Regions from separate parts of the Homo sapiens genome. Here region 2 is linked to region 1. The links come from fine-mapping of genetic effects on gene expression. Tissue or cell type: blood mononuclear cells. Region 1 holds a variant in brackets; the other region holds the start of a gene. All regions are shown on one strand. Distances are from middle to middle.

Evidence for each region. PIP is the estimated chance that this variant, and not a neighbour inherited with it, causes the effect.
Region 2: SMARCE1 starts here. The variant in region 1 is fine-mapped to the expression of SMARCE1 in blood mononuclear cells (TOPMed, PIP above 0.99).

Annotation. Positions count from the first base shown.
Region 1 is chr17:40,621,509-40,629,694 of GRCh38, reverse strand. SMARCE1 (SWI/SNF related BAF chromatin remodeling complex subunit E1) reads left to right here. Exons shown (of 11, transcript NM_003079.5): 11 at 702-4,733. The coding sequence ends at 910. Among named protein-coding and RNA genes, the nearest start is that of SMARCE1, 22 kb to the left of the region's middle. RefSeq lists an enhancer at 5,690-5,829. The variant G/A (reference allele first, on the strand shown) is at 3,661.
Region 2 is chr17:40,644,117-40,652,302 of GRCh38, reverse strand. It overlaps SMARCE1 (SWI/SNF related BAF chromatin remodeling complex subunit E1), which reads left to right and starts at 4,485. Exons shown (of 11, transcript NM_003079.5): 1 at 4,485-4,530; 2 at 6,456-6,507; 3 at 6,684-6,727. The coding sequence starts at 6,501. RefSeq lists a silencer at 3,952-4,246.

The DNA.
Region 1 (8,186 bases):
GGGGCATGTCTTATGCTTAAGGTTTGCAGGTCTTTACTCAGATTCTGTCCTAGTTCAAGGAAAAAACCTGAAGAAAATCGTTTGAGACTATTAGAGCTAAAACCTCATGCTTTTAATTTCTTACAGGAAACAGCCCAGCATGACTTTAAACAAAGTGTCTAAAAGACCAACCTTATATTATTTCTACAACTGCTTTCTCCTCGTTTAATCCATAGCACTACAGACTAACTCTCATTCACTGTCCAACAGAAATAAAATGCAAGTCACGTGAAATTTTATATTTTCTACTAGTGACATATTTTTAAAAGTTAAGCAAAACAAGTGTTTTAACAATATGTTTTATTTAATTCAACATATCCTAAATAAAATTATTTCAACACAGAAGGAACATTTTTAAAATCAGCTTTCCTTTTTTTAAACAGTCTTTATACACATCTCAATTCAGAAGCTAAATTTTCATCGGAAGTATTTGATCTGCATTTATTTAATAAATTTCATTCATTTACAGCTAAAAAGTAGATTTTCATACCCAAATTGTTCCAACATTCTTAAAAGTTCTTTAGTCACACTGGTTCATTTCAGGGGTTTAATAACCACATGTGGCTAGTGGCTTCTATATTGGACAGCACAGCTGTATACTGTCAGCATAACTAGAGTAAAATTTCATCTTGGAACTGACAGTGACAAATGTGTGATTACAGAGGAGACACACCTTGAAGAAACAACAGAGAGCCAACAGAATGGTGAAGAAGGCACGTCTACTCCTGAGGACAAGGAGAGTGGGCAGGAGGGGGTCGACAGTATGGCAGAGGAAGGAACCAGTGATAGTAACACTGGCTCGGAGAGCAACAGTGCAACAGTGGAGGAGCCACCAACAGATCCCATACCAGAAGATGAGAAAAAAGAATAAGTGTTGCCTTGTTTTGTGTGTTCTAAATACTTTTTTTAATGAAAAAATGTTTTTTGGTTTTAATGGTGTTACGTGGTTTGTGTATTAATTTTTTTTCTTGTCCATATCACACCACCAAAGGCTTTTGGACCATTTAGCATCATGAGCCTAATGGCTCAGTCAGTCACCTTTCTTAAGTGTTGTGAAGATGGCTCTTTTCTTTGGATCTTGTTTCTAGCCCTCAACTGCTGAAAGCCTCAGAATTTAGATTAATTGAGAAAACACCCACCTCTTTTAGAGAATTATCCTTTGATGCTGCAGAATCTACTCTTACAATGCCTTCCTACAGCTCACTGGGGTGCTTACCAAAGCCATAGCTTTAAACCTTCCCAGTCCCCATCAGTAGCTTCCTGAAAGTCTCCTCTCTTGTTTACTTCTGCAAAGGGTAGCTTCTTAAAAACGTGATCATGTATGAGTATGTATTTGTTCACTTACCCTTTTTTACTTTTAATCAATGTCAGATACCAAGAGTTGTGTTAAGCTGAGTGTAGTGTGTAACTAACTACACTTGGATCTTACTGATCCAGAAATAGTCCCCATAGTTAGAGTAGTTACTTATGAAGTGGTTATTAAAGTGAACACAGCACATATACATTATCTATACTGCTTTTTGTTATGATTAATACTGGGTATGTTCTGGTAAATCCATCCTTATTGTATAGAAAAAAAATTACTTTTTTACCAGGTTTTCCAAAGACAGAATAGATCACAAAGCTCAAGGAATTTAATATTCTTGTAATGGACTAGATAATTCAAACTGATTAGCCCATTCCAGAAGAAAAACAGCTGGGAATTAAGTTAATCCACTTGAAATTGTTTTACAATAATCAGAACATCCAAACCTCAAGGCTCAGGATCCCATAGACCAGAGCCCACCTTTTTGATAAACTTAGTAAAGTCTTGGAGACTAGAAGCAAGATAGTTTGTGACACATAAGCTTCCCAAAAACTAGAATAGATTTTTACTGAATAGTGGTATATCTGATGGTATATGTTTCTTAAAGGTCCAAATGTAATAAAAAAAAAAATGAAAAAAAGGTCTCAGTGTTTTTAATGCACTACATATTTGTATGCAAGACAAGCATCCAGTTTTTTTCTGTAATGCAGTGACAGTGTGGAATGACCACTCAGCCATTATAAATTTGTGTACTCAGGGCCCTTGTCTCACCCAACTATCTCTATAAACTGCTGCAGTAGCTTATTTGTACAAGACACTTGTGAAAATCAGTTTTCTTACATTATAGTCATTGTCACATATGGAAGTTGGTCTTTGATTCCAAAAGTAAAGGGAATATGTTTCTACATTAACAGGAATATGGAGAAATCTGTAACGTTTGAATTATCTTTGAAAGAATGGCTAAATGATAAATGTTAAGTCCTGTGCCTATATGGAGAGGACTCTGTACCAGCATGAGTTAATTTAAGTGGATTCACTGCTATTCAGTTCATAGCACATTAGTGACTAGGAATGTGTGTTCAGCCTCCTGAGAGAGGAGGGGAGGAAGCTTGATACTGGGTGGAAACAACTCTTGACATCTGTTTCCTTGTGTGTCAAAGAACGAATTTGTATCAAATAGATCTGTTTTGAGCTTTGGCCATTATTTGGCTAAGAACTTCAGCCATCTCATCTCAGACAAATTGGACAGCCTCTTTGATACATTTTCTAGTAGTCAAAATGGGGCAGATGTAGTTTAATATGGGTGGAAAACTGCCCCAGCAAGATACCAGGTTATTTACTGTGGTATCGAAAGCTCTAAGAGAATGGAAGTGGTTCTTTTGCCCGGCTGGAAATAGCAGTGGGAAGACAAGTCTATCCAGACCAAGCCTGTCCATACAACACTGGCAATCAGTTGATGAGGGAATTAAGTCAGATGGGAGACGTCTCAATCTGTCGCCCAGGTTGGAGTGCAGTGGTGGCGATCTCAGCTCACTGCAACCTCCACCTCCCAGGTTCAAGCAATTCTCTCTGCCTCAGCCTCTAGAGCAGCTGGGATTACAGGCTCTCGCCACCATGCCCGGTTAATTTTTGTATTTTTTAGTAGAGATGGGGTTTCACCATGTTAGCCAGGCTGATCTTGAACTCGTGACCTCAGGTGATCCGCCTGCCTCAGTCTCCCAAAGTGCTGGGATTACAGGCGTGAGCCACTGTGCCCGGCCTCAGTTGGGATTTGACAGCTCTGAACCTCAGCAGGGGAAGATTGATGTAAAAATCCACTTGGTCAGAGTGATATATGTAGACTTGATGTTTGAGATGGTTCTCAGTTTAGAGAATGTGGGATATGGTAGAGGTCTTTGTTTTTTTCCCATGTCCCAAAAGGTGCTGGGCAAGTAGCTTGAACTCGAGCCTGTTTTAATTATAAAATAGATCAAACTGCTCTTTCTTGGTGCCCTTACTGCTCCTTGATTTTTAGTGCATTTATTTTGAGTATGAATGCATAAAGTCTGAGGGCCTAAATTTTGTTAATTTTTTTTAACAAATGGGAGAGGGGAATCCTCGATAGTCACCCAATTTTCCTTTTTTTTTGAGACAGTCTGACTGTTGCCCAGGCTGGAGTGTAATGGCGCCATCTCGGCTCACTGCAACATCCAGCTCCTGGGTTTCAGCAATTCTCCTGCCTCAGCCTCCTGAGTAGCTGGGATTACAGGCGCCCGCCACCACGCCCGGCTAATTTTTGTATTTTTAGTAGAGACAGGATTTTGCCATGTTTGCCA[G/A]CCTGGTCTCGAACTCTTGACCTCCTGATCCACCCTCCTCTGCCTCCCAAAGTGCTGGGATTACAGGCGTGAGCCACCGCGCCCAGCCCCATAGTCCCCCAATTTTCTAACAGTTTTAAATTCTGTAACTTCTCCTGTCTGTAAACAAGGCTGTCTTTTCAAATGGCTCTCCTACAGGATGTGATAATTATCTATTCTATAAAGCCGAGGTTTGGAGAGGTAAATAGCTATTTCACATTAACACAATAATGTCAATGCCCTATGGAAAAGATAAAATACTTGGACTATATTTTAAAGGGGAATCTGGGGTCATGCATATTGAAGTTTAACTAGATCCCTCCAGATTTTTGGTTTTGATCCTACACATTTAGATACTAGTTTTGGATTTTAGACAGTTGGTGCTGACAGTGTGAAACTCCTATTGCCTGCAGTTAAATTGAAGCTTTGGTTTCTCGTGAACAGGCAGTGAAGCTGGTATTATACTTTAAGTCCTCATTTCAGAAATAGTTTCCCTCCACCCCCAAGCACTACCACACATGGTCTCCCCACCTGGTTTCAGCTAGTGCATTAGTTTTATCTTGTTTTTTACCGCTGGGCAAACCTTGCTGGAACAACAACTGACTTCATGATTTGCACATTTGGAGGGCTTAACGTCTTTGCAAATGAAAAATCCACTGTACAATAACAAGCTCAAAGGAACTCGGAGCCTTTTTAGAAGAAATCGTGCTGAATTATAATGTGGCTTACTGCAATAATGTTTCTTTGATCAGGATGGAAAGGAAAATACTGAGTTTAGCAGAAAACGATGTCTAAATGTATTTGTAATGATACAATTGTTTATAAATGTTTTACTATTAGGTTGAACCATAAGAAATTGCCAGTGTACAATTTCATCTACAAAATGACTGGCTTAACCTAAATTCTGCATTTTATACTCCAAGAATAAGCTCTTCGTGGCAGCTTTCTAAGTGTGAAATGATGGAACTTTCTATTTGCCAGAATGACCTACACTTCTCTAATAGTTTATCTCATATTGTTAGCCAAACGCTGATTAAAATGCAAATTTCAAACTATTGAGTTTTTAAGAGCCTGATGTTTAAAATACATTTTGGTGAACTTTTAGTTAAACTAGCTCATTTATGTTCACACATTTTCTCATTTAGCACCAGAAAGTTTCTTACAGCTCTTTTGCATGCATTCAGGAGTCAAAAGTATTATATGGGGAGGGGAAATTCCCAAATGATAAATACTCTTTACATAAAACTGAGACAGTAGCTGCAGATAATGGCTCCCTTTGAGGAGCCACTTGAAAGAAAGGAAAGGCTGCCTTAAACTCCTTGACTTTAAGGGGCAGCAAGGACCCTCGGTCAGCCACCTCCACACCCGTCTAGCACTTGGTCCCAGGTCCCCTAAGGTCGTCATGGTTCTGTTTAAATAAATACTTCTAGTCTTGGGGAGCCCATCATGTCTTAAGATAGCTCATTCCTTCTTTAGTTCACTAAAGGTATTTCCTCTCACTGAACTAAAAATCTGTCTTCCTATAATTTCAGCCTCCCTCTTACACAACTTGAAGTCAATTAGAGTACATGTCATCACCTTCCAAGTAAAAGATCTTCAGGTATTTCAAGACATGTGCTCCTTGAGATCCTTTCAGAAGACAATTTCCGTTTTCTTTTTTAGAATTTTTAATTTTTTTAATGTACAGAAAAATTTGGAACGTAGATAGTTTACATTCTCATTGTCCTGTCGTCTCCCCTCCAATGTGTCTCTCCTGGGATAGAAGGACTGTCTCTTTTCAAACATGGTTTTCTCTAATCTGGTAAAGTCGTGTTTCCTCCCCAGTGTATTGCACTTGAGACACAACATCTCCAGATCATGGAAACCATCTGCCTAAAATACAGGGGTGGTCCCACGATGACCTCAAGGTCCTGTACAGCACAGAAGTTTTGTAACTGTACTACGGATTCAAGCTCCATGAAATGAGTGTTGACGAATGTTTTCAGATGTAGCCCAACGGGGAGCACACAGGTTCAGTTCACTGATCTAGTACTTCTCAAACTCGGTCATTTGCATGCCACCATCACAATTTTTACCATTTCTGGGTACAACTTGTGCTATTATTACTTAGCAGCTTTCTTTGAATCAGCTTCTTCCACTTGAATGATTTATTTTAAAGGGAAACTGTATATCAGCATAAATGTTAAAACCATTGTCTTTTGTCAAAAAAGAAAATAACCTTAACGCAAATATTTTAGTAGTTCTCTTTAGGCCTAAATACGTACTATTTAAAAGAGTATTATTTAAGGCCAAGTCTCAGCACTTTGGGAGGCCAAGGCAGGAGGATCGCTTGTGTTCAGAAGTTCAAGACCAGCCTGGGCAACATAGCAAGACCCTGTCTCTATTTTTTAAATAAAGTTTTTTTTTTTCAAAGAACATTATTTAAATGGTCTGTGTACTACCCAAAATCATCCCAAGGATCCCACATGGTGGTCTGGATAACACGCTTAGGAGAAGACAGCACTAATGGGAAGGTCTATCTTCTGCTACCTGCAGTTGCAGGAGATTTGTCTTTTTAGAAACTATCCCCGGGTCAACAGCGGCTTATAACTCAAGGGCAAATTAGTGAAAGTTAATTCCATGATCACCTAATAATAATAAAAGCCAACATTTGTTGAGCACTTACTGTATGCTCATGCACTTTTTATACTTTTTATTTTCTAATCCCTGAAGATAATATTAGAGTAGATCACTTTACCAATGAAGTTTATATTTGTGATCTTGGGCTTGAGTTGATCAATCAACTCTTACAAACCATTTTTCCTGGAGAGAGGAAAATTAGCCTCAGGCTGTTGTACGAGATATTAAATGACATCAAGATTGAACATCTGTGCTAGGGATTTCATCATTGTGGATCAATAATTCAAAAGACTCAAGACAAAAGAATCCACTCGGAGATCAGTGTTCTTGCAATGGGAGATGTATATGGAAAAACTATTCCTTGTGGAATCCTTTCCTTCTTCCCTCCAAAGCTTTCCATACCACCAAAATGAAAAAGTACACACACACACACAAACACACAGACTTAAATCATTTGTAAGCCTACAATAATAAAAAATACTGTGCTATATAGAGAACTACCCTCATGTCTGATGTATGCTGTGTTATGCGTGCATTTTACCCCTGTTGTGGTTTCCTGTCAATCTGTGAGCAGTGGGGAACCTTTTAAAAGACATCCCTGGTTGGGTGTCAAAAATTTCAGGAAGTACCAAATCAGATGGATTTTCTGCAGAATAACTCTCTGACCTTTAACCACCTCTTCCTGATGTGTGCCGTGGATAGATCTTCCTCCTCCTCAAAAAACACACCACGTATTCTGGGACAATAGCTTTAAAATACCTCCTTGAAGCCATCAAATGTCAGTCAGAGTCTAGGTGGCTGTGGTTGTGGTTCTTAGGTGGGTGGCTCTCAGATTGAGCACAGAATCTCCTAGGGAAGCTGTCTGAACCCCACCCAAGACTACTGAATTAGAGGCTACTAAGGAGAAGCCTAGCAGACTAGCAAAGTTTGGAGAATCACTGATTTGGTTTAATCTCTTCATTTTACCAAAGGGGAAACTGAGGCCCCAAAAAAGAGAAGTGAATGACTCATCTAAGATCCAATTGTCTCAGTGCCAGGGCTGGAATTGTTCTTTACAGCTTCTTCCGGGGAGAGCAGAGCCTCAGGATATTTTTAAAAACATGTTCAAGCCTAGTTGGACTGAACTTTGCCAAGAGTTGGACGTTCTTCAGTGTGCGACACATTCTAATGTTATACTTTTTAATGACATATTATGAATATCATCTCTGTTTTAAAGATGGAGAAACTGAGGTTTAGAAAAGTTAAATAACTTGTCCAAGATCACACAGTTAATTTATGATGGAGACAGGATTCCCACTCAGGTCTATCCGACTCCAGTTCTGTGAGTGATAGGTACCCCATCTATGAGATAAAAACTCAAACTGACAGCCAAGTGACCTTTCCCCCTTCTGCAAATCTTTAAAAGCACCGGTGCTTTTCTCATAACCACTCCAGTTCTTAAAATGATTTTTTTAAGAGAGCGAAGGGCTTAGGAGCAAATGGCTTCTCTTAATAGAGCAGTAATAAAGGCTGGTATCCTAATAGTCGTTTTCCAGATATTTGTGCAGATGGAAACATTCACAATGATGACATTCCAACTTGTAAATACTAGCTCTGTGGGTTTCGGAGGGTTTGTTTTGTTTTGTTCTGTTTGAGATAGTTTCGTTCTGTTGCCCAGGCTGGAGTGCAATGGAGTGATCTCAGCTCACTGCAACCTCCGCCTCCTGGGTTCAAGCAATTCTCCTAACTCAGCCTCCCGAGTAGCTGGGACTACAGCACACGTCATCATGCACAGCTAATTCTTGTATTTTTGGTAGAGACGGGATTTTGCCATGATGGCCAGGCTGGTCTCCAACTCCTGGCCTCAAGTGATCCGCCCTCCTCGGCCTCCCAAAGTGCTTGGATTACAG
Region 2 (8,186 bases), 23 kb before region 1:
TACAAGGCTTTCCAAGTTTCCCTCACATGCTTAGACTCTAGACCAGGCTTGGCAACCTTTTCCATCGAAGCCCAGAGAGCAAATATTTTAGGCTTTTCAGGCCATAGGATCCCTGTAACAACTACACAACCCTTCCCTTGTAACCACAAGCAACCAAAGACAATACGTAAATAAATGAAGGTGCTTGTGTCCAAATAAGGGTTTATTACAAAAACAGGAGGCAGCCCAGATAACGGCCTGCAACAATCTCGTTTGGCTACTGTGCCCTAGACTCCCAATATTATCAGTGGATAATAGACCCCACAACCCAGATTCTCCAGCTCTACCCTGTTTTCAACGTTCATCCTTTTCCACACCATGGGGCAACACTCATGTCCCAAATCCTCCAGGTTATTTTGAGGGCAACATAGAGGGTTCTCAAAGCAAACCGTGCTTTTTAAATTCTGTAAAACAGTGTGGATCACTCTGTCCTGGAAAGCTGCTAAACTTCAATATTTCACAACTATTTCCAGCTACAGAAAACAGAATACCCATAACTCCTTCTGCTCTCACAGAAACAGCTGAGAAAATTAGTTTGTTTCATCATGTTGTCTATAATCAGACTTTCATAGGCTATTTGGGTCAAGTAAAGCTTTGCTCTCGCTTTCCCTTGTTTAAGAAAAAAAAAATCCATTATAAAAGCTTCAAAAGAACATACTACAAACTCCATGGCTCAGTGGTTGGTTCATAATCTTTCTTGAGTCACGCACCTCTTTGAAAATCTCATGAAAGAATTAACCTATCAGGAAAAAAGCCCATAAAAATTGAGTATAATTTTAAAGGGTTCATAGATCACTTAGAGCCTATTCATGGACTACTGGGTGTCCAAGGACTTCAGGTTTTTCCTTATTCTGTCTTATTTTCTCCTTTTTTCTCCTTTCTTCCCAGTCCTACCCCTAACTCTGTCTCCATCACCCGTTTCTTCCCACAGAACAATGGAAAGAACTCAAAGACACCTGGACTAGAACCTTAGCTTACTTAGTTTTGGCTTCCCTGTCTTGGGGAAAGAAGAACCCCAAAAAAGTATGAGTAGTGTCAGAGGGGAAAGCAGGCCACGTTTCTGGATCTTGCTGCCAGAATGAAAACTAAGGCCTAAGTTAGGTCTTAATTGGGCCTAAGATTATCTCTGGGGTTAACCACTGGTCCCACGTGAGTGCTCCCAACTACCCTTATAGTTATATTTAGTTTAAATAGTCATATTGATGCTGTATCCCAAATTTTCTGGGAATAATCACAACTCCAAACATCTGTCCTGTAGTTACCATAAATATCCTTCTAAAGGCAAGAGCATATGTTCTGGTGTTTGCTTTGGGGGAAAAAAACTCATAATAAGTAAAGTCCATCTTGCTGGATAATTCACTCTTCAGTTTTAGTTTCTTCAGGACTAGAGAACAGATTATTTTTCTATTATCTCTTGCCTATATCCTTCTTTCTTTTCTTTTTTTTTTTTTTTAGAAAGGGCCTCTGTCACCCAGGGTGGAGTGCAGTGGCATGATCATGGCTCACTGCAGCCTTGACCTCCCAGGCTCAAGCGATCCTCCCACCTCAGCGTCCCAAATAACTGAGACCACAAATGTGCACCACCGCACCTGGCTAATTTTTTTTTTAAGAGATGGGGTCTCCCTATGTTGCCAGGCTGGTGTTTCTTAATTTTTCAAATCTTTGGTAGAGAAAGAACCAAGCGAAGAAAATGAGTCATTCATTTATTTACTCCACAAGTATTGAGCATCTAAATGTGCTGTGTACTGTTCCAGATGTCAAAATCTCCACCCTGATGGGAAAAAAAAGACGGCTGGGTGCGGTGGCTCATGCCTGTAATCCAGCACTTTGGGAGGCCGAGGCGGTGGATCACTTGAGGTCAGGAGTCCAAGACCAGCCTGACCAACATGGTGAAACCTCGTCTCTACTAAAAATACAAAATTAGCAGGGTGTGGTGGCACATGCCGTAATCCCAGCTACTTGGGAGGCTGAGGCAGGAGAATCACTTGAACTCGGGAGACGGAGGTCGTAGTGAGCCAAGATCGCGCCATTGCACTCCAGCCTGGGCAATAAGAGCGAAACTCCGTCTCAAAAAAAAAAAGAAAAGAAGAAGAAAAAGACAAAACAAAATAAATTCATAAGAAGTATAGTATGTTAGGTAGCGACAAGTGCTACAGAAAAAGTAAAGCACAGGCCATGAACAGACACCGGGGGTTGGGGAATGAGATGCAATTTTAAAAAGGTCAGGAAACACCTACTAAGAAGGTGACATCTGAGCAGAAACCCAGTGAGAAAGTGTATCAGACAATGTCACTGCTCCACTTAGGTCCCCTCCTTTCCCTTTTTGCCGTTTTTGGGCCACCCCTTTCCTACTATAGGGTGCTTTATTCTTAACATCCAAAACCTGCAGTTTTTCTTCAGAGGACTGCCTAGAGACAACACACAGCGCCTCCCCAGCACTGCACTCGCCCAATCCTCCCACCATAATCCCAAAGGCAGGGAAGAAACCAGGCTGGAGTTGCTGGACGAAGCCAGAAAAAGAATGTACTGAAATCCCTTCTGAGGCCTTTGTGTATCGTACTTTAATCCTTTACATGTCTCTGATGGATATATACATATATATATATATAATTTTTTTTTTTTTGAGACAGAGTCTCGCTCTCTCGCCCAGGCTGGAGTGCAGTGGCGCCATCTCCGTTCACTGCAAGCTCCGCCTCCCGGGTTCACGCCATTCTCCTGCCTCAGCCTCCCCAATAGCTGGGACCACAGGCGCCCGCCGCCACGCCCGGCTAATTTTGTTTTTGTATTTTTAGTAGGGACGGGGTTTCACCGTGTTAGCCAGGATGGTCTCGATCTCCTGACCTAGTAATCTGCCCGCCTCGGCCTCCCAAAAGAGCTGGGATTACAGGCGTGAATATTTTTTAACAAGCAATTTCATGTACATTTTCTCAAGCACCACTCAAGCTGCCTGTCCACGGGGCAGACGACTTCTCCTTTAGTCTTTCTCTTGAATATGCTCTTCAATTTCATTAATCTCTATTCATGAGTATAACAATATTGGAAAAATTGGACAGAGTATCACTTGTTCCTCGCTTTGCAGACTAGAGATGCTTCTAGTCCCTGTTGGCACACTCAGGATGGGGGCTACGGGAAGCCCAAGAATTCAGCCTCTCTCTAAATGTCAACTGTTTTCCAGTAACCACAGGTCAGGGATCCCATACGTTCATTCTCCCTCCACAGTGACCCACAATATCCATCGGGTGTTTATGTATCCAAAGAAGAGGCTACTCATTCCATCTGGTAAACCAACATACTCATGATTTAGTGGAAAGAGCCCTGGAGTGGCACAGAGGGCTGCCTCAATACACACTTACTGAGCGTCTAACAATGAATGGGTCAAGCCCTTCGTAGGCACTGGCAATGGGAAGATGACCAATACAGACGGCTGAACCTTGCTTTCAAGGCCTTCATAAAGCACTGGAGATGACAAACACGGTCCGATACAAAGGGTCGGGTTCAGGACTCCAACCATTATTATCAAAGAGCCACGGGAATACAAAGGAAGGATTACTAGGGGGGAAGTTCCAGGAGGGCATCACAAAGAGACCTCTGAGCTGGATCCAGAAGGACAGATGAGTTTAAGCTGAAAGTGGGGACGGTCGTTCCCGCTGGTGGGAACCGAAGGAGCCGAGGCAGCGCTGAGGCGGAGACCAGGTGGCACCCGCGGCGCTGCAAGGACACACAAGCTGTTGCGAGGGGGTCAACTCTCCGGGCCTTGGCTTAGAAACCTGGGACGATTACACCCTAAAAGCGCTTGGAAAAACTGCAGAACTCGTGCTGATTTTCGCCAAAGCTACTCCCCCGCCGTGAGGGCAGGAAGCCCTGCGAGGCGCCTGCGAGGACGCAAACGCCGCGAAGCAAGTCCTCCACGCCTCCATCCCAGGTTTAGTGAAGTGTAGACTCTGACCCACAGCCTAAAGGAAAGCAAGACCGGAGTCGGGGAGGGCCCCTCCAGGAGCGGGCTCAGCGGGAGTCTGGCCGAACTGCTTGCTGCCACAGTGGTTCCGCGGCCTCGCGCTGAGCGCCATCCGCCGTCTCCCACCGCGGCCCCCACCGCCCCTCCGCAAGGCTCGGCACCTCCCGCCACTTCCTCGGTCGCTGCGGCGGCTCCGGCTCCTCACAGCCGCTAAACCCAGGCCTATTCTGTGTTAGGTCGGGCCTCCTCGGCCCTCTTCGCCGTGACGAATCAGCGCCCGGCTGGGAAAGTATCAAAATTCGGGGAGTTTTGAGGATCCAATGGGTCCTGAAAAAAATCCCTGAGTGTGCTAAGCATCACCGCATCTTCACTAGAAGGTTAGTTTTTCTAAAGAGGGTCGGGTGGGGCCCGGAAAAAAAAAAAAATTAAGAAGAGTGTGGAAAGTGCGAGTGCGGAAGCTCCGGACGCGAGGGGCGGGGCGAGCGCGGGACAAAGGGAAGCGAAGCCGGAGCTGCGGGCGCTTTTTCTGCCCGCGGGTGAGTGTTTCCAAGTGGGACGGACCGGGTCGGTGGGTGCAAGTCGTGGTGTCCCCGCTTGGCTAGACCCCGAGTTCCCGGGGGTTGCTGGGGTTCAGCCTTGGCCGTGGGGCCAGAGCCAGGAGCCGGTTGAGGCCTCCTTGAGGCCTAGCAGAGCGAGGGTTGGGAGGGAGTCCCATCTGGGGCCCCCTCCTTGGAGGCAAGGCCAGTCCCCCGAAATTGGTCAAAGCACCTGTGAATACCCCGTTTTAGGGGAGTTGCTAGTAAAGTACATTCTCCAAGACAAAGAGAGCGACCTCAGGAAGCCGTGGGCAAGGCAGGTCCGTGGTTCACCCCCCACCCGGGCAGAAGGTTCCCCCATTGGTTCAGGCAGCGACTTGAGGACGAGCAGAGCTCTGAAATAGTTTGGCCTGGGTTTGAAACCCAACTTTGGCACTTCCTGGCTGCATATGGCTTCAGACAAGTTGTTTAAACTTTCCGAGACTCCCTTGTTTCATCTGTAAAATGGGGATAGCTGTACATATAAAGTACTTGTGAGTGTTAAGCGAAATAGTGTCATAAGCGTACCCCGTATAAAGTATTTCTTGAACAAATATTTATCGGGTATTTATTTTTATGCCAGGCACCAAAGATGGATCCAACGGTGGACAAATGTACAAGCCCACTCTTAAATTTTGTATTCTAGCAAAAGAGAGCAATAATTTTAAAGTATTAACAATGAAGTATAACGTACAGGGAGCTTATGTTAGTTGTCAGGGTCCCCTGCAGCGAGGCCTGCTGGATGTTGACAGCTCCCTTAATGTGAGCAGAAAGGAAATCTACACCAGAGTCAAAGGTTTCTGGCTGTTCTTTAAGAGGGAAAGACTCAGGTTGGACCATTGAGAAAATGAGCTGTTTCTTTCCACACCAGGACTCATTCCTTATGCTCCAGGGAATTTCCTTAAAATTAATAATAGAAGCGAAAAATCAGATCTATTCCACATGTTTGGTTGCAAATACCTCCAATAGTCATAGAAGTTTATTTGCCTTCTTTCCAAAGATGAATTTTTGTCTTTTTGTACCTCACTATTTGTGATGTATGTTGATGTAAAGAACAAGCTCACATGTGCCTGGTTATGTTGTGAGCTGGTAATACTAGGAAAAAATTTCCTAAGAATTGAGCTAGGTCCTGACATGGTCCCTCTTTCCAAGTAGCATACAATCTAGCCATATTGATAAGTTAAAAAAAAGTTATAATAATATAGATCTGTGTAAACTGTATAGGAATACAGATGGGGGAGCAGTTAATTCTGCCCAGGTAATGTATCAAGAAAGTTCCCTTGAGGAGAAAAATTTTGAAATGGGCTGTGAATGATGAATAAAAGTTTTTCAGGTAGACTCTCAAAATTTATTCCCAGCATTTATGAAGCTATTTACCATTATAAGAGAATGTGAAGTTCATTGTCATACCAATTACCTTTTGCACTGCTTCCAGGAATAAAATGCTGCCTAATTTTAATAAAAATTGTTATCCCAAAAGCATGATACAGTTGCTGATCAGGGAGCTGTCAGTATCTGGTAGGCCTTGTTGCGTTGGACCCTGATAATACATCACTTTCTATTCTCATCCTTGTATCAGTCTGATGAAATGTTTACATGGCGTCAGCAAAATGTTTTCCATACAAGAGGTAGCTTAGTATCACAAGAAAAAACCTGAAAGTACATTTCTAAATATCCCCAGTACTTTATTTTAGTCATTTAATTCTAATCAACCAAATGACCTATAAGAACTAGTTAAAATACACAAAAGGCTTAATTACTAGGAATTAAGGTGAAGTAATTTTACTCAGAAATACCAATTAAATTACCCTATTCATTAGGAAAACATTCTCGTATGCTTGCTGAGTTTTGATTCTCTTTTTTTTTTCCTTTTTTTTTTATTTTAGTGTCTCAGATTCATTCTTAAGGAACTGAGAACTTAATCTTCCAAAATGTCAAGTAAGTTTCAATTTTTATATTTATCAATCTATGTTAATAAGAGACTAATGCCCTAGCAAGTGGGAATTCCAAAATACTCTCATTTTTTTTTCTTCAAAACAGGACCATTGGTAGTTTTGTTGCATAGTATTATATCTCAGTTGTTTACAAGAAGTTATTTATTTTCTTTCAAACAGAAAGACCATCTTATGCCCCACCTCCCACCCCAGCTCCTGCAACAGTAAGTTTTAATTTTCTTGTTAATGTAATAGCCAACTCTGGCCTTGATACAAAAACCCAGATGTCTTCCAGTGACAGTCACTCAATCATCACAGCAACAGGATGAAATTCAGCTTAAAAGAAAAAAAAAAAAGCACTTCCTACTAAATAAAATAATTATTTGCATCTTTCCTTGAACCAACCCCAACATTTAAAGAAACAGTACTGTAAAACTCCAACCTCCTGTGCTCAGTTTGTTTTGTTTTTTCTTTGTAAATGGGAAATAAGTGAAAGTTTTACCATTTCTTTCTTATTAATCTTCACTATTAAGAGTCTTTAAGTTGTTACTGAGTGAATGCTCATTCTGGCTATTTTGTTAAACCTAACCTTCAACTGGTTATGTTTTTCTCTCCTTTCTTGTCTCTCTCTAAAATTTTCATATTAAACAATAAAGCTTCTGAAACTACTCATTGTAAATATTTTCAAGCTGTTCAAGTAAAGATTTCATTATCTATGGGGCAGATCTTGCTATTGAATCTTATTCCACTCCATAAATTATATTTTATTGGTTTGGAAGTATATATGTTTTAAGTAGTTGTGAACGTGTTTTTTCACCCAGGAAGCTCTGGCCCAGCTTGGTCAGCATGTAAAATAATTTTCCAACCCACAAAACAGATTTAGCAGTAACTGTTCAGGTCTTGCTGAAATGGCTTCCTTGTTGGTTTTTTGGGAGGGGGGGTTTTGTTTGTTTTTAAAAAAACACTGTTAGCATGACCAAATTCTACAAAATTAGTTCTTTAATATTAATCCTTCCTTCCATACCCCCACCACCTAAATTTCAGGCTAGTCTACTTTTCACTACTAATTAGGTCCTTGTGTAACTTAGTTTTCTCCGCTAAAAAACTACTCATATTTACTAACCCTCAGATACATATTTTAGTTACATTTATCAACAATTTGTTTTTCTTTAGTGAGATACTTTAGAAAAGAGATACCGTACCATATGTTCTCATTTCAATTTATGTCATATACAGGCTCTAAAGTTAATTCCAGTAGACTATAAAGTCCTATGCTTGCTTTGTTTTCTTTCTTAAATCGAAGAACATTTGTTATGACCATCTCCATGGCATTCTGCTAGTGGCTATACAGGTGGAGCTGAACAATTGAGATTCTGACCTCAAAGAGCTAACCATGTACTTCAGCTTTGGAAATGGTATAATTATAATGTTTTGCTTTCCATTTTTTTTTTTTTAGTTCCCTTATTTTTATAACATTATTGCCTCATAATGTTGAACAGTGATTCTTATTATTTATGCTACCTTTGAAGGTGTCATTTTGACAAAAATACTGCCTCTGACAATGCATCATCTTGACAAACTTGATTTTTTGAGATTAAAATATTTCAAAAACCAAGTGTCCCCTTATAATTTATTATGCATAAAAAGGAATTTTTTTTGCCTTTCTTTAGTTATATTTTTGTG